7 linked regions of the Homo sapiens genome follow. The protein of the gene in region 1 purifies or fractionates together with the protein of each later gene. This does not show direct contact. Each region holds a gene or a part of one and is shown on either strand. Other genes may lie near its edges. The genes, in order: ATAD1, ANKS6, XXYLT1, GOSR1, PRMT8, COQ8B and SLC2A12.

Region 1 (3,500 bases):
TTATCTTAAGCTTTATAGAGGCTTAAAAATTTAAACTCCTTTTTAAGACGGATGTTTTTGGTAATGGCTTTACTTAGTAAGTGCTATATGCAAATAAAAGATTTAGGAAGAGGATGGGCACAGTGGTTCACACCTGTAATCTCAACACTTTGGGATGCTGAGGCAGGAGGATAACGAGCCCAGGAATTCAAGACCAACCTGGGCCACAAAGTGAGACCCTGTCTCTACAAAAAATTAAAACATTAGGCAGGCATGGTGGTACATGCCTTGCAGTTCCAGCTACTCAGGACCCAGAGGCAGGAGGATCATTTGAGCCCAGGAGGCTGCAGCAGTGGGCTATGGTTACACACTCCAGCCTGGTGACAGTAAGACTCTGTCTCCAAAAAAAAGGATAAGAACAAAAAAAGTATTGGGATACACAAATCTAAATTTGAGATAATCCTCATTTGTGACAAATATTCCACCTTATTAGTGACTATTTTTCTTTTTTGGACAACTGTTTATTGGCTTTAACATAAAATTTGTCCAAATGGTGCAAAAATACACATCTATATAAATTAAATCTACTTAAATATAAAGTACTTGAGAAGAATATGGGTCTTTATAACAGAAAATCTATTTTTAAAATTATTTTTTTCCTTAGGTTACTCACAATTTAAAGAATGCACCAAAACATGAAGTATAACATTCACAAATGTAATAAAATTTATATACCAAAATAACAATACAGAATTCAGAAAGTTTACAGAGGAAGCCATATGGTATTCAGATGGATTTTGTTGGAATTTTAACTGTTGTAAATTTTTAGACGTTTGAGGGAAAAAAATCACTTTTTAAATATAACCGTCAATATCTTATGTGTGCCCCCATTTCCCTGTCACCAATTAGCGGCATCATGGTGTGCATTAGCTTCAACTTTGTATCTATACACAATAGTTACATATGACCTCATGCACTGCATGGATACTGCAGTCACTCTCCAATTATCTTTTTGTAGTCTGTGTGAAGCAGTGATCACTTTCAGCTCAGATAGCAATAAACTGTCTAAGGATAACATAAAATTGTCAATAACTCTAACCTAGGTAACCTAGTTCCAGTCCCAAAATGGAACAAACAAGGATGCATCTGATTTTACACTCTGCTTCTATACACCAATATCCAATTTATATTGAGGGTCAAAAAGTAAATTAATGATCTTCAAAACTGTTATTCTTGATTAAAAATTGTCCAGACATAAAGGTGAAAAAGTTCAAATAGCAAAACTTTATATAATCAGAAAATATTCATGTAACTTTTAAATTGGACAATGCTTTCAAATAAGAAGCAAATTTACATATAACTTTTGAAGTATTCCCTGCATAATTTGGTATCCACTCTGCTAAATGGGTCTTTAAACCAAGTCCAACTGGAGAAATCACCCAATTACCTGGTCTAAGATAACACTGATAAAAAAAGAAGCTTTCTCCAACAGCATATAAAAGGTATTTTACTTTCCTAAATTCACTAGCATTGTCCAATTGAGAACTAAAAATGCAGAAAAGTCATTTTTTGTTCAGACTACAAATAACCTGGAAGAGGGTAGTAAAGACTTAACTAATCCAACTATAGCCATACATTTTTGATCTGGGCTCAAATAATCATTCAAAGTTTTTTTTGCGGCAGGGGGGAAATCACAATAAACTGAGTGTTTTGTTAGGAAAAACTATAAGCAGTGTTGTTATTTCAGAAAACAAAAAGAAATACCTAATAGCTTTGTTGTTTTAATAATAAAAGAACATGTCATTTTTGCTGTTAACTGTCATCCTCCACTTACCAGAAACAAAAATTATGTAGTTCATAAAAATGCACAGGTACAGGCTTCAGTTACCTTTGATATGTAAATTAATGCACTTTATTGATATAGCTGCAAATTTAGAAAGATTATAAGCATTATAATTTAAACATACATAATGCTATTTTGATATTTTTAAAGATCCACTTTTTTGAAAAATCAATGTGACTAATAATTTAAGTCTTGACTAACAACATATCAAACCCATATAGTTTTGGCAATGCATTAGATAAGAGTTTCTGCTAGATGAAAATAAGCTATCTCGTGAAATTTGGATCTGAACGCCATAGTAACACACACATATATCTCTCACTGTAAATTATTTACACTCCATCTGAATCACCTTTAACAAGCCTTAAGCATGACAGAAATATGTGCACTAGCTGGGCACAATGGCTCATGCCTGTAATCCCAGCACTCTAGGAGGCCAACGCAGGTGAAGAACTTGAACTCAGGAGTTCAAGACCAGCCTGAGCAACATGGTGAAACACCATCATTACCAAAAATATAAAAAAAGAGCCAGGCGTGGTGGCACATGCCTGTGGTCCCAGCTACTCAGGAGGCTCAGGTGGGAGGATCACTTGAGCCTGGGAGGCGGAAGTTGCAGTGAGCCAAGATCATGCCACTGCATTTCAACTTGGGTGACACAGTGAGACCCCATCTCAAAAAGAAAAGAAAAGAGAGAAAAGAAAAAAAAAGAAAGATTTGAATGAACAAGAATTACACTTAATGATGCAGTTATGAGCATATTCAATTCTTGAGTTCCAAGACTTTCAAAGTGATTTTGAATAAGCAAACATCTCCATCAAAGTTAAATATTTAATTTCTAGTTCATCTGCAGATAAATATTTCCTGAAAAAGAATCATTACATTCTAAAAATAAGATCGTTGGAGCTGTGAAACAAGAAAAAAATGTCTTGGCTTGAAAACAAAACAAAACAAAACAAAAAACTTGTATTATGACTTTGAATCTTTCTTTAATCTTGATTTTCCAAATTTTAATTTACTTGGAAGTAAGAGAAAAGAAATTGAAGGAGATTATTTTAACAAGTATTTTAACATGTAAATACAGGAAAAAGTTTATCTCAATTTCAGAAGCTGAAGAATGAGCAATTATTTTAAGAAACTGTTCACATAGATCTCAGCATCCTCTTGAGAATCTGATTTCACAAAAACTAGTTCTACAATGGCAGAAAGTTTCAATGTTTTCTAGGATTTTAATGCTTTAGGCGAATATATACCTTTACCATACCTTTTGGAGGCTGCAGAAGCCTGGAATTCTCAAACAAATGTTTCTTTTTGATAGGTAAGATGACTGTGTCTTTCAGATCCGTAATGACATCATCTAAACCTGCTATATCACTCCAAGTAACCTGGCAAAAGTTAAGGTCAACATGAATTTTACTACAAATGTACACTCACTAAAGTAAAAAGAACGCTCCCAAAATTACAAATGTTAATCTGATGATTATACATAAATAAGTTAAAATCATATATTAACATAAGTAAAGACTTTTCCAAGCAGTAATGAAATAAACTGCTATGAAACTGGAAAAAGGAATTTAATAGTCAACTATCTACTATTAAAAATCTGTAAGTCAGGTACTCAAAAATCTGCAAGGGTCTAATAAGCTAAATTCATTCCACTTGTAAGGAGAAAATACTCTGC
Region 2 (3,500 bases), on another chromosome or scaffold:
CTGGGATTACAGGCGTGAGCCACCACACCTGGCCAGAATCCCAGAATTCTTCATGGAAAGTACGGACACTGCCATGGGACACAGTATATCAATTTTGCCTGTGAAATACTATCAAGAAACTATTCTGCACCTGACTTTTAAAAAAAATATGTCATGTTCTTTCAAGTATTCAAGAACCAACTTTGCTGTGGGGTGGGGTCTTCTCATGCCAAGACCTTTTCACAGAAAAGAGTGTCACCTGGTCTTAGTGTTGGCTGCTAAGCAACCATCTGACACAAGTTAATCACTGACAGCAGAGCCTGGCCCCAAGAGGCAGGGGCAGCTGTGTCCTGACACCCAGTGACTCTGGGCAGGTCCCTTCCTCGCTTTGGGCTTCAGTTTTTTTCGTCTATATCCAAGCAGTCCCAGGGACCCTGCCCCAACCCAAGGAAAAGAAATCAGCTCCAACTCCACACCACAACCTCAGTGGGGAGTCAGAGGTGTCGCAATGACAGTTACAGCATCAAAAGTACCCTGTCCTGCTGCTAATGAAAGGCAGAGACCAGGGGACCTCCAAGGCCTTGGTGGGGGCTGGATTTCCGGGAACTGCACAGTAAGAGCTGGGGCTCCTATTATTTATTTCATAATCTGTCATTATCAATAGCACAGCCTGCACCCTACCTGGGGCTCTTCCCAGGGATCCCCCAGGGCCAACACACTCCCTCAGGTCCTGCATGTCTGCTGCAGTCCCACCTTCTCAAGGTTGCCCAACCACTCCATTTGACACAGCAGGATGAATTGTCCCAGCTTTGCCACACCCAACCTCTTTACACTGCCCTTTTTTTTTTTTTTTTAACCCTGTGGCACTTACCACCTATCCTACTATATATTTAATATGCTTATTTCCTACTGACTGCCTGTCTCCCCTTATCAAGGCCAAGGTCCTCAAGGTCAGGGATTTGGATCTCATTTGTTCACTGATGTATCCAAAGTGCCTAGAAAGGTGCCTGATACATAGCAGGCCTCAGTACGTCTTTGTAAAGTATCGGAATGAATGTATCATCAATCAAAACATAATAGTTTCCATTTATTGGATGTCGTCTATGTGCCAGGGCACTGCGATGAAAATTTTACAGGCCTGATCTTACTATTCCTCACAAAAATCTCCCAAGAAAAGAGCCTTTATTATGACTATCTTATGAAAAAAGACACTGTAGTCCTGCAGGGCCAATTAAGATGACCAAGACCACCCAGGTACAGAGTGGGAGAACTGAGCCTCAGACTAGTTCTGCTCAATGGGAACATGACCAGATCCTGCTGGAAGACCCGAGGTTCGCTCCTGTCAAATAACGCCGACAACACTATGGAGTAATCCACTTCCCATGTGCTCCCTCTGGGCCAGGCAGGATCTCACATGAACCCCACAGCAGCCCTGAGGCGGGTATCACTCCAGCACCCATTTGTGGAGAAGGAAATGGGAGCTTGGTGAACTGAGGCAGCTGGTTCAAGGTCCCTTGGCCAGCAGGGGCACAGCCAGCATCGAACCAAGTGGACAGTGACCTTGGCCACATCCACCAATGTGTCTGAGCCACTGCATCTTGGGGAAATGAGGGCATCGCCATCCCATGATGCCAGGACAACCCCTAAAATGAGGCCTGTCAGAAGCTAAGCCCGAGGGCACTCCGTGAAGATTCAAGATGCAGAGGCTAAGGAAACCTGGGATGGAGAACGCATGCACAACAGAAGAGGCACAGCTCGGCAGGCACGGGCAGGTGCAAGTTCTGGAGTGTTCACTTCTGAGCCTGAATTCCCTCCCCTGCAAAATGGGGGAATACCCTCCTCAGAGGGTCCCTGCGAGGGTGAGGGGAGATTCAGCATGGCAGGTGTGCTGGGCACGGCAGGGCCTGGGAAGGGCAGATCCTTTCCCCATCCCTGCCACAAACAACCCAAACCTTTAAAGGAGAGCAATGGCCTTGTGTCAAAAACAAAAACAAAACAAAACCCTGTCCTAGGAGACTGGGGCCCTAATTTCTAATAGCAAGCCTTTATGAGTCCCTAACACTCTACTGGGCTGAGTATCTCACACGCCAGAGGATAACCTGCCTTCTGCTCACCACCACCCCGTAGTAGTTGTCATTGTGTCCATTTCACAGATGAGGCAAAGGCTCAGAAGAGTCATGTGTTAAACCAGCTTCTAGAGCCCATGCAGGAGCTGCAGGTGGGAGAATCACCTCTAGGTGCTCTTCCCATGGAATCCTCACCTCCTGAGTGTCACTCACTCAGCTTCCAATGGGTGTGTGACCTTTGACCAGCTTTCTTCCCTCTCTGGGCCTCAGTTTCCCACCTGGACAAAGTAAGAGGTCTCTTGGCTTCAGGTAGTTCTTCCTAAACTTCTTTTTCCTTTTCATTTGAGCATCCTCTTCATTTTTGCCACCTCTCTGTCATTACAGGCTTTTAAAACATGTTTATTTCAGACTTGTTCTGATTGGATGGTGTATTTCTTTTTTTTTTTTTTTGGAGAGTGTATTTCTAATAAGCATTTACCAAATTTTCAGCATCTCTTGATTGATGGGGCTATTCTATATTCTTTCAATGGTAACAAACTTAACACTTTCAGGTCTTTTTAGCCAATGTGCCTGAAGCTACTTTCTTCAGTGCTTGACCTCTCAGAGCTAGATGTTTATATACACTGCAGCCCACCTACTGTTACTCCCTGGCTGTGAGTCCTGCCGTCGAAGTCAGGCCTTTTACATAGACAGAGGGTACCAAGGCTGTGTGTTGCGATCTTATTGCAAACCGTGCATTAAAGGTTTTGAAACGTGGTATGTCCTATGGCAGATTTGCTAAGGATTGTTTAGACAACTCTTTACATGCCAGAGAGATGGCAAGAAGTTAAAAAAAAAAAAAAAAAAAAGATGCACTGCTAGATGTTTTTTAAAAAACTAATTTTCATCAATTTTACATGAACTAGTGTTTGAGAAATGATCAGGGCAGAGGAGGTCAGGCACACTATTGTAGAACAAGGGCTGGCAAACTATAGCCCATGGCTCAAATATATCCCACTGCTTGTTTTTGTAGTTATAATTTATTGGAACCTAGCCATACCTGACTCATTTACATATTATATGCATAGCCACACCCATTCATTTACTCATTACATATGTAAGGCTGCTTTCACTCTAGCAGAAGTGACTACTGTAGTTTTAACAGAGACTGTATGGTCCATACAGTCTATTTGGCCTTTTACAGAAAAAGTTTGCCAAACCTTGTTGTAGAAGGGCCCCAGAACCACCTGCATCAGAATGATGTGCTTGGGGAGAGCAGCCTTGTTATAGAGGCTTCCAGGCTCTTGCCCAGGGCTACCAAATCACTCTGCAGAGAGTGGGCCCAGAACCTGCATGTCACAGGCAATCCCCCCGATACTTAAGCACACCACTTCCTCAGTCTCAGTGGTCTGCAGGGCTGGACTCTGAGTTCTGCGTGTCCTTCCAGTAGAGCAATCCTCAGCTTAAGCCACATAA
Region 3 (4,023 bases), on another chromosome or scaffold:
GGCAGAGGTTGCAGTGAGCCGAGATCACACTGTTGCACTCCAGCCTGGGCGACAAGAGCAAAACTCTGTCTCAAAAAAAAAAAAACAAAAAATTTAGCCAGCGTGGTGGTGGGCACCTGTAATTCCAGCTACTCGAGAGGCTGAGGCAGAATCGCTCGAACCCAGGAGGCAGAGGTTGCAGTGAGCTGAGATCGTGCCACTGCACTCCAGCCTAGGCAACAAGAGCGAAACTCCATCTCACAAAAAAAAAAAAGAAGTAACGGGAGCAATTTTATGCCAGGACTGATAACCCCTTATCCAATCACTGACATCTGGCTAGAAGTCCCCAGACACTAAACCCTCACCCCTCAACAGAGGAGGTATCAGTTCCCTCTGGTCATTTGCAGCTGCCTCCAGGCCTTGAGTGAGGCTGCCAGAACTGGGCCCAGTAAAGTGGGGTAGTCCGAGCATGAAACACTTACTCCAAGACAGGAGGGGCTCGGCCCTGAGGCTGGATCTACCCCTGGGCCAATATTTCTGGTGCCAACTAAGAGTGCCAGGCATTGTACATAGGGATGGATGATAAGACATGATACAGTCACAGCACCAGGGAAGTAGAAAAGGAAAGAAGGGACGCTTCCTTGGCTCCAAGGAGGGGATGGTATCTGAAGATGGGCAAGACTTGGAGATGGAGAGAAGGAGCACCCCAACAGTGGGAATGACAAAAGCAAAGGCAAGTAGGCTGGAAAGCACTGGCTGTGCAGCTAGCGCTGCAGCGGGAGCTGGGGACAAGGGGACAGAGATCCGGCAACGGTGCAGAGTAGGCCCAGAAGAGATGACAATGCTATCTTCAAGGCGGTGTTTGGAGACCTGGTCAAATCCCAAGATCTGCCCAGACTGACCCTATGGCCAAGGGCCCTCAGTTTTCTACCGTGAACTAGTGCAAAGTTTCTCAAATATTAGGGTCATTAGGATCACCTGGGACAGGTTGCCAGGCTCCTCCTCCAGCGAGGACCTTCAGAGGTCCCAGGGTCTAGGGACTTTCTCAGGAGAGGTGAAAGCTGAGTAAAGAATGGCCAAGGGCCCAAGAGGACACTGTGGGCAGACAGTACAGCATGTATAAGGCCCACTCCCTACATAGCTAAGGTATGAGGTGCATGTAGACAAAGGAGGAGAGGTGAAGCCAGAGAAGTGGACCAGGCTCACAACACAACAGCCCTACCAATAAACTGGGACTTCACCCCGTAGGCAACAAGGAGCTATCAGAGACTCCCGAAGCCTGTAGGATCCTGGCAACAGCTCCCCTAGTCACTCACATAATACAACTCCTGTCTCAGCATGCTTCCCCAACCAACATCAGTCTCCACCCTTTAATATTACCTACTACTCCTTAAAATCTGGCCTCGGATCCCCTCTGTACAACTATTAGGTCAAAATCAAATAAGCAATTTGACCTAGGCAATTCACACTATGTCAGAAACACATCTCAGACAAGGAGAGCCAGGCAGTGAAGACAGATGATAAACAGAGATGGAAGCTGTCATGGAGGCAGACTGGTCCAGCCTGGGACAAGGCGGCCAGCTGTGCTCTCCCCAGATCATATCTGTTCCTCTTGAGCTTTCTCTTCCTCATTCGGAGGAACTCCAGGCTTCTCTAAATGGGTTCATGACCCTTGGAGGAAGGGGAAAAAGGGACACAGAGAGGAGATAAGATGGTTCACAATGAGTTTGACCAGATCCTACTGAAATACCTTAAGAGCAATGAGAAGTGTCACTGCAACTTCAACACTTCCAGAGGCCTCACCAAGGCCCTCTCCAGTTGCTCAGGATGACTACTGGTGACCAGTCCCATCCTCAGAAGTCAAAAACTGAGGAACATAAACAGAGGTGCAGACTCTGAAGGCAGTGCTGAACCCTGCAACGTTAGCAAAATGGGGGCGCGCGGACTCTCCTGGGGGCTGCGCTTAACTGGGGGAGAGGAAAACGAGGCGGTCATTAAAAACGCAGCTCCACTCCTCAGCACCAGCTGAGGGCGTCTGGCTCCCGGACACGCCCCCGAACGAGCCCTCCCGCAGGTTGTGAACACTACATTGCAAGCGGGCAGCTCAGGGAAGATCCTACCCGCTAGTTCCCCGGATCCCCTCCGGGAGCGCAAACTGACCTCGCCTAGGATGGGGTGGGCCACCCACCGGGAGCCCCCAGCCGCGGCCCGCTCACCTTGCACTTGAAGCCAGCGGCGGGCGGCAGGAGCTCCCGCAGCAGGCCCTTGGCCACCTCGCGGCTGGCCTCCTCGCTCACGAAGTGAAGGTTAAGCACCTCGTGCGCCTCGAACTTGGCGAGGCGCAGCAGTGAGCGCAGCGCGACGCGGGCCTTGGCCTGCAGCGCGGCATTGTGCTCCGCCTTGGTGAACATCATCAGCAGGTGGTAGTCCACCGGCCCGGCACCGCCGCCCTCCAAGCTCTTGGCCTTCGCGCCGGGGGCTGGCGCCACGGAGCCCCGCGCTAGCTCCAGCGCGGGCGGCGAGGGCGCGGCGGGAGCCCCGGCGCGGGCCTCCTTCAGCCTCTTGGTGGCGCTGGAGAAGGTCTCCCGGCCTGAGCCGAGGTAGTAGAAGGCGCAGACGGCCAGCGCCGCGGCCAGCAGCAGGGCGCAGTAGTGGGAGCGCACAGCGCCCAGGCGCGCCATGGCCCGAGCGCATGGGAGCCCGCCTCGGAGGAGGCCCATGCGCTACGAGACCGCGGCGCCAGCGGTGCCAGCAACGCGGGAGAGCCCTCGGGTACCCGGACGCCGGCGGCCACTTAGCCCCGGCGCCAGGCGGCGGCCATGAAAGGGGCGGGGCCGCGCCGCCTGGAGCCAATCGCGGGCGCCGGTGCGCGGAGGGGCGGGGCCGGGCGTGCCGAAACCGCTGGGTCCTAGGTTCCAAGGGTATTAGAGGAGGGGTTAGGGTGGGATCCGGCGCCCGGCGTTGGGAGGGGGGGATTCCGGACTCCAGCGTGCTGAGGGCTGGCCCGCTGTCCCGGCTGAGAAATGGCGCCCTACGCGGCGAGCCCCAGAGGATATCCAAGCTGAGTGTTGAAGGGAATGGAGGCGCCCGAACAGAGGAACTTAGGTTAGCCAAAAGCGAAGCTGGAGGCACCAAGAGGTAAAACTTTAATCTCTGCACCTTTTTTCCCTCAATTTCTTGGAGGCTTTAAGCCGTCTCGGCCTCTCCCTGCACACGAGCTGCAGCTAGGCAATTTAAACCGGCAGCTCCTCCCTTTTCCCCCGCCCTGGGAGGAAATGGCCCGGGCCGCACGTCGCGCCGGAGGCCGAGCGGAGGGAGGCTGGAGGATGTGGCCAGCAGGGGGCCCCCGCCGCCCGCACGAACCTGCGAGGCTGCTCCCCGAGCCCCAGCACCGCAAAGCCCTGGAGGGCGACATTCATCCACTTTTGTTTTATAAACAGACTTTTAACACTTTATCAAGAGCCTCCTTGAGGGTACCAGGGAGTTTTGCACGCCGAGGTCACGTGCCCAAAGTCACACAGCTAGCCAGTAGCAATTTTGACCCTAGGCAGTTGCACACTGCTAACTAGATAAAAACGTACTAACTTCAGTCTTCTAAGAATTGAGGCTATACCAGTAGTTTTTAAGTAAACACGTGCAAGTGCTGTGCATGCTGTCTAAATAGACAAAGAACTTGAGTAAGTACAGTAACCCTTCAGTTCTTTGGCCAAGTTCTCTGATTTCTGACCAGAGATTAGGTAAACGGTTTTTCCTGTTATTTCCACATTGTAAGGTTGCATGGATTATCCAACCTCTCTGCTTCAGACCTTGGCTTACATGTCACTACCTACACAAATGATCTCTAAATACCTCCTATCCAGTGTCTGGGCTAAGTGCCATCCTCAATAATTCTGTGAGGGCCACCTAAATATATGTACTACCCTAGTCTCATCTTTCTTCATTGCAAGAACACGTGACTCCAAGAGAACAGAATATACATTTGTTTTTTATTAACCACAATATACCCAGTACCTAACACGGTGCCTACCACATTGGATGAGTCTC
Region 4 (3,500 bases), on another chromosome or scaffold:
TGTTAGGCCTCACCATGCGTGATCAGGCGGACCTGGCTGTTTCACTGGGGACTTCAAATTGCCAGACCTCTATGTCTCTTCTCCTGAGCTAGGTCTTCTACTGGACTAGGGGCAGCCACCTAGCTGCATGCGTTAGGAAGGGCAATTTTGGGTTATGGCAACTCCTTGTACAAATTTCTACAAATCTCCATTTTTAACCCTACTCCACAGTTCTGCCCTCAGAGAGAGTGATCCCTTCCATTCTTGAGCATTTCTGAGATCTGTGGAAAACTTTTTAAAATCATTGCTTGACTCATAATTTTATTGAGGTGCATCACAGTGGTGGATTTGGAGCTGCTAATGTATTTTTTTGTTTGTTTTAGTTTTACCCAGTTACATTTCTTTATTCTGAAATGTCATTTCAAAAGACCAGACCATAATATCTCCACATGAACAGATATTTTTCTAGAATAGGCCTAAAAGTATTGGGAAGATGGGATTGTCAGCATTAAAACACATAGGAAATCAGGACCCTGGAAGAACTGTAATATTCTCTAGGACTTTTCATTTTCTAAATTTGCAGATATTGCCTGTGATTTCAGTTGAAAGTGATCCAAATCCTAGTGTGTCCATGTTAATTGTGTGTGTAGCTTCAAATGTTATTTAACGTTTCTTAATCAAGTGGAATTTTTCTAATGTTTTCATTTTTCTTTTATTAGACACTTGTATATTGTATATTATACAAGTACAGTGTTCTTATTGTAACAACTTAAATAATACTAAAACGGATAAAGAAAAAGTCAGCCGGGCGCGGTGGCTCACGCCTGTAATCCCAGCACTTTGGGAGGCTGAGGCGGGCGGATCACGAGGGCAGGAGTTCGAGACCATCCTGGCTAACACGGTGAAACCCCGTCTCTACTAAAAATACAAAAAATTAGCTGGGCGTGGTGGCAGGCGCCTGTAGTCCCAGCTACTCAGGAGGCTGAGGCAGGAGAATGGCATGAACCTGGGAGGCGGAGGTTGCAGTGAGCCAAGATCGCGCCACTGCACTCCAGCCTGGGTGACAGAGCAAGACTCCGTCTCAAACAAAAAAAAAGAAAAAGAAAAAGTCAGTCTCCTGGTAGTACCCCTCCATTCTTAACCCCTGAAGCAACTTGTGTTAACTGACAGTTGTGTATCCTTCTGATACCTTTTTCACTGTCATACAGACATCCCCAAAGATGTTTGTTTCTGTAATTATTAGAGGATTCATATTCTATACATTCTGTGGCTTGCTTTAATCACTCAATATGTTATAAACATCCCTTCAAGTTAATAGAAATACTAACTTTGTTTTGTTTTGTTTGAGACTGCGTCTTGTGTTGTCACCCAAGCTGGAGTGCAGTGGCGCGATCTCAGCTCACTGCAACCTCTGTCTCCTGGGCTTCAAGTGATTCTTCACCCTCAGCCTCCCAGTAGCTGGGATTACAGGCGCTCACCACCACGCCTGGCTAATTTTTGTATTTTTAGTAGAGAAGAGGTTTCACCATGTTGGCCAGGCTGGTCTTGAACTCCTTGGCCTCAAGTGATCCACCTGCCTTGGCTTCCCAAAGTGCTGGGATTACAGGCATGAGCCACCGCGCCTAGCCCTAACTCATTTTTTTAAATACCCAAATACTATGTAATCACTGCCTGTGATTTCAGTTGAAAGTGATCTAAATCCTAGCATGTCCATGTTAATTTTGTGTGTGTGTGTAGCTTCAGATGTTGTTAACATTTCTTAATCACTCAGGTGGGATTTTTCTAATGTTCTTTTCATTTTTCTTTATTAGATATTTATATATTATCGAAGTACATTTGTATATTATCAAAATGTTCTTATTGTAACAACTTAACTAATACTAAAATGGATAAAGGAAAAGTCAATCTCCTGGTAGTACCCCTCCATTCTTAACCTCTGAAGTAACTTGTGTTAAGTGACAATTGTGTATCTTACTGATATACAACTTTTTCACTGTCATACAAACATCCCCAAGGGTGTTTGTTTCTGAAAATATTACAGCATTGATATTCTGCACATTCCGTAGCTTGCTTTAATCACTCAATATGTTATAAACACCCCTTCGTGTTAATAGAAATAATACTAACTCATCCTTTTTAATAACCAAAGTATGGTTATATCATAATCTATTATACCATTCAAATGTTACTTCCAGTTTTGGGGGATTTTTTTTTTTTGGTCTTTTTGCTGTTGTTGTTCATTTTTTACTATTCCAAAAATGCTTCAACAAATATTCTTTTACAGATTGAATGTTGCTTATCCAAAATACTTGGGACCAGAAGTCTTGGGGATTTCTGATTTTCAGATTAGGGATGTTCAACCTGTATATACCTCCTTACACACTTTTGTTTCTCTTTTGCCATCTCAAATCTTGAAATTCAAGTTTTGATTCATGTGTCATTTGTTTAGAATATTCCTTCTAGCATTTCCCTTCAATAAGATACATGGTGGTTTACTCTGTGAGACCTTACCTGGCCAAAAATGTGTTCACTCAGCTCCCAGATAGATCCAGCTATGAGAGCCTCTTAAGCAATGGCATATCAGGCAGTGATGCATCCATCACTGGGCTCTTCCCTTAGGGGCTGGGCATCACACCAGCTACAAGACTATCGGCTCTCTGCTTGTCATCTTTCTGGCTGCATGTAGCAGTCCTTTCCCAGCTTCAGTGCCTGGGAGCAATTTCACTGCAACCCCTGTGTATGCAGATCCATAGTCTTCCACTGTCTGGGTTCCTCAGGAAGCAAGGAAGCCCTAGGTCTTTGCCTCAAGCTTGAAGAAAAATCTAAGCTTCCCTGCTGTCAGTTCCCTGGTTCTCTCTTCACTTCAGAGAGTATAGCCCTCTACCTGGCTTTCTTCCCTGGAGATCTCAAGGGAACTTGGGGCCTCAGATGGACCCTCCTTAGTGTGTCTGCTTTTATTCTTGTGCTACTCCATGGAGGAAATGGACCAAAGGTCAAGTCAGGAATTTATACTCTCACCATCATCTTCCCCAAATCTCAATCTCTTGATTTAAAAAAAAAAAAAAATAGATATTTTCAAAATTGCTCAACAGCATTTCATTTTCTGTTGCTATTTATAATGTCAACATGCAAAGCACTCCTCTGAGTGTTACATATCAAAGTGGATACTGACCCTGCCCTCTAGGGCTCTAATGTCCAGAGAGATAAGACTATGGGAAATGAATAATCCTGGAAGTGATAGCAAAATGATACTAACTTAGGGCCAAGCTTGGTGGCTCACACCTATAACTCCAGCACTTTGGGAGGCGGAGGTAGGAGGATGGCTTGAGCCCAGGAGTTTGAGACCAGCCTGGGCAACATAGGGAGACCCCATCTCTAGAAATAATTTAAAAATTAGAAAAAAAAAATTAGCCAGGCATGATGGCACATGCCTGTAGTCCCAGCTACTCAGGAGGCTGAGGTGGGAGGATTGCTTGAGCCCAGGGAGTCAAGGCTGCAATAGCCACAGTCACACCACTGGG
Region 5 (3,500 bases), on another chromosome or scaffold:
AGTAAGAAAAGACATTTGATGTGTGAAATATCCAGTGGCTATTTTGGCTGGATAATACTGGAGAGGCAAATCTCAAACACTCCTCTCCTAGCTATTCCTATTAGAAGTCTAATACCAGAATATCAGAAAAAGGGATTGGAATCAATTGGAACAAAAACTAGTAAAAATGGTGAGACAACCCCAAATGAAAAGGTAGCAGCCAGTTTTCATCTCTTTTTAGAATAACATAAACGAAGGTGACTCAGATTGCAATCGAAGAGGTTGAGCTCAGACTTCAGGGAGAACTTCCGACTACTGAGACACTCGAGGAGTTTGGGGAAATTCCCTTCTCTGAAGCTTTTTAACAAGAGACCAAGTGGCCAACAATGCATCTTCGGTTAGGTGGTTCTCAGGGACAGAGGCATGGACAGAATGACCTTTCAGAGGTCCCTTCTTGCCTGTGCTCACTCTATCTTGTTACTAAGCCAGTTCACAACAGCACCACCTGCTTGCTTCTCACACACAGAGGCTGCTTTCAGTTACCTTGGCTGTTCACATATTTTCAGGCTGCCCATTTTCCCCCTGCTGGCAGAGTAGACTCCAAGGTGTAAGGACTGTTTTTACAGATTTTTGCATGTTCCACACTGGTATGTGATAATCACTTCACATTGCAGTTAGCAAAGAGGAGGAAATGAAACCCACTCCTGAATTGGAGACAGGAGTGTTGTGTTTCACTGTCTTTGACAGCCAAAAGCCAATTTAGGACTCTGAAAAGCCAAATTAGCCAGGCAAAAAAAAAAAAAAAAAAATTGGGTATCTTCTTAATTCTCCTGAGCTCACTTAAGGACTGAAATCAGTGTTTGCGGAGGGAGGAAAAAGTCACATGGACTATGGTTTTATGGATCATTTCAGCTACAGAAATGAGAAAGTGGGAGAATACTTTCAGTTTGCACTTTTTTGGCAAGACTCCTAAAAGCTAGCAGGATAATAATCATAAACGCTTATTGAGAACTCACCATGTATAAGGCAATGTTCTAATTCCTTTGCATAAATTAACCCTTTTCATCTTCACAACAATCTTAAAAGGCCCAGAGACATTAAGCAACTTGCTCAATGTAGCAACACATCTACTAGGTCCAGAACTGGATTGAAAACCAGGAAGTCTGTCTCCATAGCCTACTAGTTAGTGTACACACTCTGCAGAAACAGACATAGATGAAGACCATCCTCAGAGAACTATGCCTGGTTCCTCCTCTTCCTCAATTCCCTAACCCCTGTAATAATGGGACCACATTCTTCAGCTGAAAGTAACTTCCTGAGGAGAAAGATCTATTAGCCAAAACCACCAAGATACACCATGCAAGAAGTCAGCTCAGTTATCCCCATAACTCACTGCAACCCCTAATCTCATTGTCACATTGTAGGATTTTTTCCAACCTGTAATTATTCCCTCTCCCTGGGCCAGCAAGTCAACAGAACATTCAAAAAAAAAAAAAAAAAAAAAAAAAATATATATATATATATCAGTTTCCAAAGTGACTCTTTGCTAAAACTGTTTCCCAACTCCTGGGGGCTCTCCTTTGAGGTGATAAAACCCTAATCAGGGAGTCATCGCCATAAATAATGCATCATGCATCAGACTTTCACCAAGTATCAGTAAAGCAAGCAGTAGCTCAGGAGGGTCCATTATCCCCCATGGTTCATAATTGGGCATTGTGATTAATCCATTTATCTGCTATTCAGATGAGCACTCCATAGTAAGAGTCGATAATTACTGAATATTGAATAAGTACATGAATAACCAAAATGTACCCATGATTTGACTGGCTTCAGCACCTTGATTCCCAGAATATTTACCCATTTTGAGTTTCAAAGGTTCACAGCAACTAAGTACAGCAGACAGGTGGGGTGGGAGATAGGAATCCCAATTTCCAGGAAGCCATGAGTGACTAAAGCCCATTAGGCTCAAGAGTTTGTTCACAATCACATACATCAATTCAGTCAACATTTATTAACATTTATTACTTATTGTGTGTCAGGCCCACAAATTCAAAAAAAAGTGCATTATCTAATAGACATATAAATAGACACACAAAAAGCCAATTATCTTGCAATAGGAAAAGTGAGAGACAGGCGTTAGGAACACATAAGAAAGGGTAATGCCCCTCCCTGGGGAGAGAGGATAAATGGCAGATCTGGGAAGCCTGCCCAGAGGAGGTAACGTTTGAGCTGGGTCTTGCAGGTTGAAAAAGATTGTTTTCCAGAGAGAAGAAGGAGGAAAGACCGGCACAGGCAGAGGGAAGAGTATGCACAGAAGCATTCACATATGCAGTCGGAGGTCTTTTCCAAGAATTGCATGATGCAGGTATTGATGGGCTTTGCACACCATGCTAAGGAAACTGGGCTTTATCTAGCGTCCTGTAGGCAATAGGACAGCATCCTAAGTTTTTAAAGAGATGCCTGATCATGAGCAGATTTGTGCTTCAGAAAGCTGATCCAGTACAGTAGGATTATGAGGCTTGATTAGAGAAGAGGACAAACAGTTCAGAGGAAAGTGCCTTAGTGAGGGCAGAGGTGAGATGATGTGTCTTGGGCACTGACAATGGGCTGAAGAGGAGAGTGGGACTGGAGGCTTTGCAAATGTTCCAGAAGGCCACAGAGGAGGTTTCTCATGACACCTAGGGAACAGGGGAGAGGGAGAAGAGGCTGGCAGAATGGTGATTCCCTTAGCCGAGGAAGAGAAGCATAGCTGAGTGATCAGGAGAAAGCGTACATGGAACTAACACTATTGCGTGTTTGCCATGTGCCAGGGGCTGTCCTGGCATTTCCTTATACCCATACCTGCCCTATTCCATGAGGAGAATCAGCTCAAGTTAACAGAGAAGGGAACTGAGGTCAGAGCGGTTGAAGAGTGCCCCCAGGGCCACCCATTGCCAACAGTGTCCAGCAAGCACGTGATGTTGATGCTCTCGTACCCTAGCTGGGTACTTCGCTTTGTGGAGGGAGGCTTTGGTCAAAATGTAAGTAGTTTTATTCTTCACTTGCTCCCTTCCTGCCCAATGGTTAGAGTATCTCTCCGTAGCTTTAGCTTTTGAACGAACACTTTCTCCCATCCTTGCCCACCTCCATCACTGCATCTCTCCCTTCCAAAGTATTCCTCTCTGCCCACTCCTCATCTACTCCCATTCACACATGGCATCTTGTTAGAAATAGCAAGGGCAGGGCAAACAGCAATGAATCAGAAGTGGGGGCAGTCTGTGTTTCAGGGCTGACTTAACCCACCAGAAGACTTTCAGCAATTGCTTGACCTCAGCCTCGGTGTCCTCAACTATAAAATGGGTATAAGAAATGAATACTAATCTTTGCTTATCTCACAGGATTGTTGTGAGGATGGAATGAGATAAACAACAAAAAGCAGGAAAAGGTGGCTACAGGATTATCCATCATAGTTGTCCATGAGACTGTGAGCCCCTCCAGAGGAGGGACCAGGTGGTCCTCATGTTTGGAACTTGGGTACCTAG
Region 6 (3,500 bases), on another chromosome or scaffold:
CCCAGGGAGCATGAGCAGGTGTGGGAAAAGCCTTATGGATTTTAACAGAGCCTTAGAGAGACGGGAGCCCAGGGCCAAGATACAGCAGCAGACTCTCAGAGGGTGTGCATGCAGGGAGCGGGATTGTAGGTGCGGCAGAGCAGAAAAGGACAGTCCTGGGGATGGCACGTGAGGAGGCGCCTAGAGAAAGGAGGGTGGGTTGTGTTTGTGTAAGAGACGGAGAGGGAGAGGGAAAGCCAGGCCCAGAAGTGAGATTCAGATGCAGTGAGCAACGTGAGAGTCAGTATGAAAAGGAGACAGAATAGAGGCAGGCGTGACTCTGAAAGAGCTGCCAGGGACTGGGGTGCAGGCATGTGCAAGAGACAGAGCCCAGAAAAGGCTTCGGAAGACCCCGGGGAACCCTGTGGTGCTATGAAGGACGAGGGAAATGTGTAGACAGATGATACGATGCAGGTCAGAGGCCTGGAGCAGGAGCTGCAAGGGGCAGCGGGGGAGACAGGAGAGGGACAGATGCAGGTCAGAGGCAGGAGCAGGAGCTGCGTGGGAGACAGGAGAGGGACAGATGTGGGTCACAGGCCTAGAGTAGGAGCTGTGAGGGACAGCGCGGGAGACAGGAGAGAGAGGGTTGGCAGGAGAAGGCATCCACCAGTGGGCGCTCGGGGCCCTTCCCTGGCTGACACACCTCCCCCACAGGCCTGTTTGCCGAGCAGAGCCTGCAGGCCTTGCAGCAGGAGCTGGCTTGGGAGTGTGACTACCGTCGTGAGGCGGCTTGTGCCCAGAATTTCAGGTGAGCTGAGTGCCCTGAGCTTCCCTCCTTCCCTCCCTCCCAGGCTGGGTGGGAAGTAGCTGCCCCCTCAGCTTCTGGCAGCTGGAGCTGTGGGGTAGGGCAAACTCTCTCTTTCTTTCAATCATTGTTCATCCATCCTTCCACTCATCCATCACTTCGCTTACCCCCTTTGTCCTCTGTGAGCTTGGGCAGGTCACTTCCCAAGCGGCAGTCTTCTCCTGTGTCAGATGGGCCGCATATCCACTGTGGTCCGACACAGGCACTTAATTAATTACACAATGACACACTCTTACCTCTGCTGGACTGACGGAGAGCAAGGAGCCCACAGCACTGGGAGGTAGAGAGAGTGGGCTCCACAGCATCCCTTCTGCACTGCAGGTTGTGGGAGAAGGTGGTAGAAGCATTTTGAGAACAGGTTGGCATCATCACATAAGCCCTTATATTCAAGAACTCTGCAAGCCAACGATTGCCCTCCCTGCTGAACACTCTAGGGACCCTTTTGCCAGTATCCATCATCAGACTGTTCTAGAACGCTTGTCTGCAACAGCCCCAAACTGGAAACAACCCATATCCATCAAGTTTATCCAGCAGGGTGGACAAATAAGCAACGGTATATTCATCTGTGGAATATTACGTAGCAGTGAAAATGCATGAACTATGGCTACGTGGAACAATGTGGTTATATCTTGGAAGCATCCTGATGTGTAGCAATTAATGGCACCTCAGTGGGGTCCTCCACAGTGTGGCTCACACATTTATTGACAGCCTAAAACGTGCCAAGCTCTGTAGACAGAGAGTGAAAGCTCAGTAGAAGGCAGTGGTTAGAGGCACACACCCTAGACTCAGATGCGGGATGAAATCCTGGGTCAGCCCTTAACAGGTTACGTGGCCTGCATCCATACAATCTGTACAGTGGCCTCCAGAGAGCATCCCCTCACTGTGGAGTGAGGATGAAAGGGGAGTGTGCCGATTAAATGCCCCACATGGCTCCGGTTCATGAGGAGCAGTTCAAACATCAGAGATTTTTATCAACAAGGACAAAAATACAAACCCCAAAGGAGGAGCTCAAGGAAGAGAGTGTGAAGTGGGGTGATGGGCCAGAGACCCCCCCGTCCCCCACAGGATTCCCGGGTGCCCTTAGGATAAAACCCCACACCACCCTCCTGTTCTCCCTCACTCTCCTCCAGCCATCCCACGGATCCTCAACCAGAGACCTTGCTCATATTCTCTGCCTCCCAAATCTTACATAGACATACTTCTTTTATTTTTTTGAGACAGGGTCTCGCTCTGTTTTCCAGGCTGGAATACAGTGGTGAGATCACAGCTCACTCCAGCCTCGACCTCCCAGGCTCAAGTGATTTTCCCACCTCAGCCTCCTGAGTAGCTGGGAACATAGGCGCAGGCCACCACGCCCAGCTAATTTTTGTAGTTTTTCATAAAGACGAGGTTTCACCATGTTGCCCAGGCTGGTCTTGAACTCCTGGGCTCAAGCGATTCTCCCACCTCGGTGTCTCAAACTGCTGGGATTACAGGTGTAAGCCACTGCACCCAGCCAACACACTTACCTCAATCTATAATCCGTCTGTTTGTGAGAGTGTGGTCTCGGGGTTGGGGGCCAGGTCCAGGGACTGGTTCATTCACTGCTCTGTCCCCAGCATCATTTAGCACAAGGATGGACACAGAAGATTCTTTCCCGCTATTTACCTGTGTTCAGAGTAGTGATTGCAAGGACTGACCCATGGGTATCACTATAGACTTCACAGATTTTGATACCAGTGACTACTTTTGGGATGAATGAATTAATAAATTAATGAAAAAGTAATGCAAAGGCTGAAATACACCTGAACTCATCCTTCTGGGGCAACCAGAAGTCATAGAAGGGTTTCGGGTAGGGAAGTGGTGACTGGGTTTCCAGCAGCACCCAGTTGAGAGGCAGGTGCAGAGTAGGCACCTTGGAGATACTTGTTAAATCTCAGTCCAGCCAGGTGTTGGTCATCACCCAGGGCAGACAGCAGCAAGAGATGGGCAGGAGGGAGGGCATGGCGCAGACTGTTCATGGAGGACTTCTGAGAGCACAAGGAGGAGGTCTCAAGCTGGGTCACAAGCCTGAAGCACGAAGTCCCCTTCCTCCCTTTCCTTCTGCCCCAGGCAGCTGCTGGCAAATGACCCCTTCTTCCGGGTCCCAGCCGTGGTTAAGGAGCTGTGCACGACACGGGTGCTGGGCATGGAGCTGGCTGGAGGGGTCCCCCTGGACCAGTGCCAGGGCCTAAGCCAGGACCTGCGGAACCAGGTATGCTGTCTGGTGGCACAGTGGGAAGGGCATGGCCCCAGGGCGGGTGGGCCAGGCTCATGGTCTCTCTCCAGGCCAGCAGTGGCACCACAAGGGAGATCACACTGAGATGCCTGTTAATTCTCCCCACCCCAGATTTGCTTCCAGCTCCTGACGCTGTGTCTGCGGGAGCTGTTTGAGTTCCGATTCATGCAGACTGACCCCAACTGGGCCAACTTCCTGTATGATGCCTCCAGCCACCAGGTTGGTTCCTAGTGATGTGTGTCTGGGTACATTTGCTGTTGTAACAAATATTCCTTGATATTTCGGTAGCTCAACAAAATAGCAGTTGATTACCCCCACAATAGGCAGGGGTGGCCCTTTTCCAAGTGGGATTCAGGGACCCAGCTCCTTCCCTTTTGTGGTTTTGCCATCCCTGGGGCC
Region 7 (3,272 bases), on another chromosome or scaffold:
TTAAACCTGCTGCACATTGGACTCAAAAGGAAAACTGGACCAACAATAATTGAGGAAATAGACTCTTTTATTCATTCACGGCTACAGTGTAAGCTCCAGTCCCTTTGGATTTTATTCCAAACCTTGCTGTAATATAAAAGGAAGTTTACAAGACATGATATTGCTGCTTTTACAAAAGGACATTCTATTTATTTTCGCAGTAATTCTCATGTCCCCATAAGCAGAGCTGTCACAGTGTGCACTACCTTAGATTGTTTTATTGTCGTCATTGTTATTTTTTTCCATTTTGAGCTAATGTGTTTTATTTGTGAATAGTCTTTTACATTTTTGTATGCTGAATATGGGCACCAAAGAACCTGTAAAAGTTATCTTTTTCAATTGAATGTGCACAAATAAAAGTTTGGAAAAGATCTCTCTTCATTCTATAACTTTTATTCCCCATTTTCTATTTTAACAAAAATTGTATTCATACTTCTTTTTTTTAAAATCTATGCAAGCTTAAGACTTTGGCTAAAGTGTGTTGGCTTCTTTTTGAAGTGTATTTTGTGTGTGTGTGTGTGTGTGTGTGTATATATATATATATATATGCACCACATGTGTATAGTATCTTTTAATGCTCTGTTACCAAATAACAAATAGGAATTTTTTTTCTTGCAGATTAGAAATAAAAACGTGTATATAAACTCTAGGGAACCAGACTAGAAGTTTATAGATAAAGGATAATGTTTTATGTTGCTAATTTAATATGATAGAAAATGTTAAATAACTTGTAAAGGTTAAGAAATTGTAGTTTTAAGAAGAGAAACCTCTTACCCACTAGATGGAAATGAGAAAGAAGCTGTGATGAATGGTGCCTCATTTGGACCTTTGTTTTTCTGGAAAGACTCAACACCTGTAGTTGTAGAGAAGTGATTGAGGTTCTTGACTTTAATCTTGGGTTGATGCCCAAGCCTATACTAAGAGTCTTGTCAGAAGTTGGTAACATGGAGATGTTTTAACAAGAAGTGCCCATAAGCTGCCTCTGTGCCACAGTGTAATTATCAAATAGCCCCACTTGAATTTGAAAGCCATTTTGTGTGATACTGTCCTTCCCCTTGCTGTATCTTATTTAATGGAGTTAAAGAGTGACTATTCAGTATATGAGATTGCTACTCTTAAAGTTATAATAAATATGCATTTATGAAACAGTGTCTCTGGCTCACCCAGGAGCCCTGATGTGGTAATACAGGATCAAGCTGTAGTTGTGCCCTGTCATTTAGGTTTAGGAGTTTAGTGTAACCAACAGTGATTATACCTAGAAATAAAGCTGAGTGGAGAGTCCAATTAGCTTCTCAGGAGAAACTTAATGGGGACAATATTCCAACACAATGTTCCACAAAAACTTGTATTTCCAAAATGTTTTTAAACCTTTGTGGAAAAATTGCAACATCCTAATCTCCATATATAGTACATTTTCCTTACTGTATTATAAAATCTTGAAAACCTAGCTTAGGCACTGCACTGAACAACACATATTATTTTTATCTTTTTTCTTCTCAATGCCTTCCCTAACCTCCTGCTTATTCCAAAGTGGAAAGCAAAGGCTAACTTACATTTTTCCTTCTTGTGAAATATTTCATTGAGATTTTTAGACTTGTATTTTTCCTTTTTTTTAAAAAAAAAGTGTTTATTTCCTTTATTTTAAGATTCAGTAGGATAGCCAAATTCATAGAGAATAAAATTACATGAAAGAGTTACAAGCTCACTGTTTTAAAGACTTGACATTTTTCATTTAGTTTTAATTAACAGTAATAAGTCACCTCCTGTTTTTCAATGTTCACCAAAAAAAGAAACATAGAATAGGGGGAAAACATGCTTATATAGCCAAGGTACAGATCCAGATGATGTAACCTTTTTAGTATTCGCATGACTTGAAAACTGGGCAGATCAATAGATAATCGAAGTGCTTTATCTGAAGGGAGAGGGTAAAGACAGTGTGACCAGGTTTGTTTTCAGGGCTGCCGAATGAGCCTCACCTAACAGTGTCCATGGGTAATTCGCTAACCTTAACAAAGATGGGAAGAAGTGAGTGCTCTGATGTCTTCTGCTGGCTCTCCATAAGTACTGTAAATTTTTTTTATAAATAAAAACTGTGAATATATATGTACAAGTTGTAAGTATTTCCCCCTTTTTATTTTTGAAAATCAAGAAGCTTGATTTGGTGTGGTGCAATGGATATTGGATAAAAATTTGAAGACAAAATTGTTTAGTTACAGACTCAGGATAATAAAAGAAAAATATAAAAGAATGCTCAAGATACTGAAGTCAAGGTCACTAGTAATAAACTGGCTAGGTTGATAAACAATTTCCTGCCCATTTATAATGAAGGGCTAAACAAAAAATACCTGAAGTATATATAGAGTTTGAACTATAAACACGGAAGGAAACATGGGGCAGAACACACTTCCCTTCTCTTTCCAAAAACAAAAAACAATGCATGCTCTGATTTGCGTATGAAATACACCATGATAGAATTGAGATCTCCAATCTCCTTTCCTTTTAGCTTCCCCCTGCCAATTTTTATACAGATAATACACTGCAGATCCAGGCCTTTTAGTCAGTCTCCTGAGTCTCTGATATAGTTTTACTACTTACATAGGTTTATAGTCTCTCCACATTGTTATAAAGGAATGTAATAGATCATGTTTCCTTATATGACATTGGGACAGTTTGTTAGGAACCAATAGGAAAATTCCAAGCTAAATAAAAAGGAGCTTTGGCTCTTAGGATTCTCTTTTCTTCAGGTTAATCATATTTTAAAATTCTTTTTCAAGTTAGGTTGTTCGTGCTTTTAAGTTTTTTGTGTGTCTTCCATCACTTAAATATTAGTAATTTAATATGTTATTTGGTTCAAGATTTGATTGTGGATTTTCTATCATACCCAAATTTTATTAGTAAGACCTCTTAACAAGTCTTTAAAATCAACTGGAGAAGTAAGAGAACAGTTCATCGTTGTGTGGGTGAAACCCACGTTGCTGGTACAGGTGGCCATCATAGAAAAGAACATGAGGGAATTGTCCTGATGTCTGAATGTCATTTATTGTGTCTTCAGTTATCTGAACATCATCATCAATTATAGCCTGTGTACCGTAACCTGAGGTAGTGATATTCCTGAGGAGTGTGAAGAATTGGACACTGTGGATTACTATACATTGTCATGAAAGCCTTACAAGGAGGCAGCTTTTCTAGGCTTGACTTAATAACTTCAACCTAATTGCTTAGAGATTTGGATA

Evidence for each region.
Region 2: the proteins of ATAD1 (region 1) and ANKS6 purify together in Homo sapiens (affinity purification with mass spectrometry, with the first as the bait; one large-scale study listed by BioGRID). This does not show direct contact.
Region 3: the proteins of ATAD1 (region 1) and XXYLT1 purify together in Homo sapiens (co-immunoprecipitation; one large-scale study listed by IntAct). This does not show direct contact.
Region 4: the proteins of ATAD1 (region 1) and GOSR1 purify together in Homo sapiens (affinity purification with western blotting; one study listed by BioGRID and IntAct). This does not show direct contact.
Region 5: the proteins of ATAD1 (region 1) and PRMT8 purify together in Homo sapiens (affinity purification with mass spectrometry; one large-scale study listed by BioGRID and IntAct). This does not show direct contact.
Region 6: the proteins of ATAD1 (region 1) and COQ8B purify together in Homo sapiens (co-immunoprecipitation; one large-scale study listed by IntAct). This does not show direct contact.
Region 7: the proteins of ATAD1 (region 1) and SLC2A12 purify together in Homo sapiens (co-immunoprecipitation; one large-scale study listed by IntAct). This does not show direct contact.

The regions. Positions count from the first base shown.
Region 1 is NC_000010.11:87,787,227-87,790,726, forward strand, and holds part of ATAD1 (outer mitochondrial transmembrane helix translocase), read right to left. Parts: intron 3,205-3,500; coding exon 3,084-3,204; intron 1,904-3,083; exon of another isoform or gene 1,839-1,903; coding exon of another isoform or gene 1,814-1,838; intron 1-1,813. UniProt on the Homo sapiens protein: Outer mitochondrial translocase required to remove mislocalized tail-anchored transmembrane proteins on mitochondria.
Region 2 is NC_000009.12:98,786,556-98,790,055, forward strand, and holds part of ANKS6 (ankyrin repeat and SAM domain-containing protein 6), read right to left. Parts: intron 1-3,500.
Region 3 is NC_000003.12:195,268,360-195,272,382, forward strand, and holds the start of XXYLT1 (xyloside xylosyltransferase 1), read right to left. Parts: upstream 2,801-4,023; 5' UTR 2,700-2,800; coding exon 2,196-2,699; intron 1-2,195. UniProt on the Homo sapiens protein: Alpha-1,3-xylosyltransferase, which elongates the O-linked xylose-glucose disaccharide attached to EGF-like repeats in the extracellular domain of target proteins by catalyzing the addition of the second xylose.
Region 4 is NC_000017.11:30,515,408-30,518,907, forward strand, and holds part of GOSR1 (Golgi SNAP receptor complex member 1), read left to right. Parts: intron 1-3,500. UniProt on the Homo sapiens protein: Involved in transport from the ER to the Golgi apparatus as well as in intra-Golgi transport. It belongs to a super-family of proteins called t-SNAREs or soluble NSF (N-ethylmaleimide-sensitive factor) attachment protein receptor.
Region 5 is NC_000012.12:3,494,203-3,497,702, reverse strand, and holds part of PRMT8 (protein arginine N-methyltransferase 8), read right to left. Parts: intron 1-3,500. UniProt on the Homo sapiens protein: S-adenosyl-L-methionine-dependent and membrane-associated arginine methyltransferase that can both catalyze the formation of omega-N monomethylarginine (MMA) and asymmetrical dimethylarginine (aDMA) in proteins such as NIFK, myelin basic protein, histone H4, H2A and H2A/H2B dimer.
Region 6 is NC_000019.10:40,699,887-40,703,386, reverse strand, and holds part of COQ8B (atypical kinase COQ8B, mitochondrial), read left to right. Parts: intron 1-693; coding exon 694-787; intron 788-2,935; coding exon 2,936-3,077; intron 3,078-3,212; coding exon 3,213-3,320; intron 3,321-3,500.
Region 7 is NC_000006.12:133,987,081-133,990,352, forward strand, and holds the end of SLC2A12 (solute carrier family 2, facilitated glucose transporter member 12), read right to left. Parts: 3' UTR 501-3,272; downstream 1-500. UniProt on the Homo sapiens protein: Insulin-independent facilitative glucose transporter.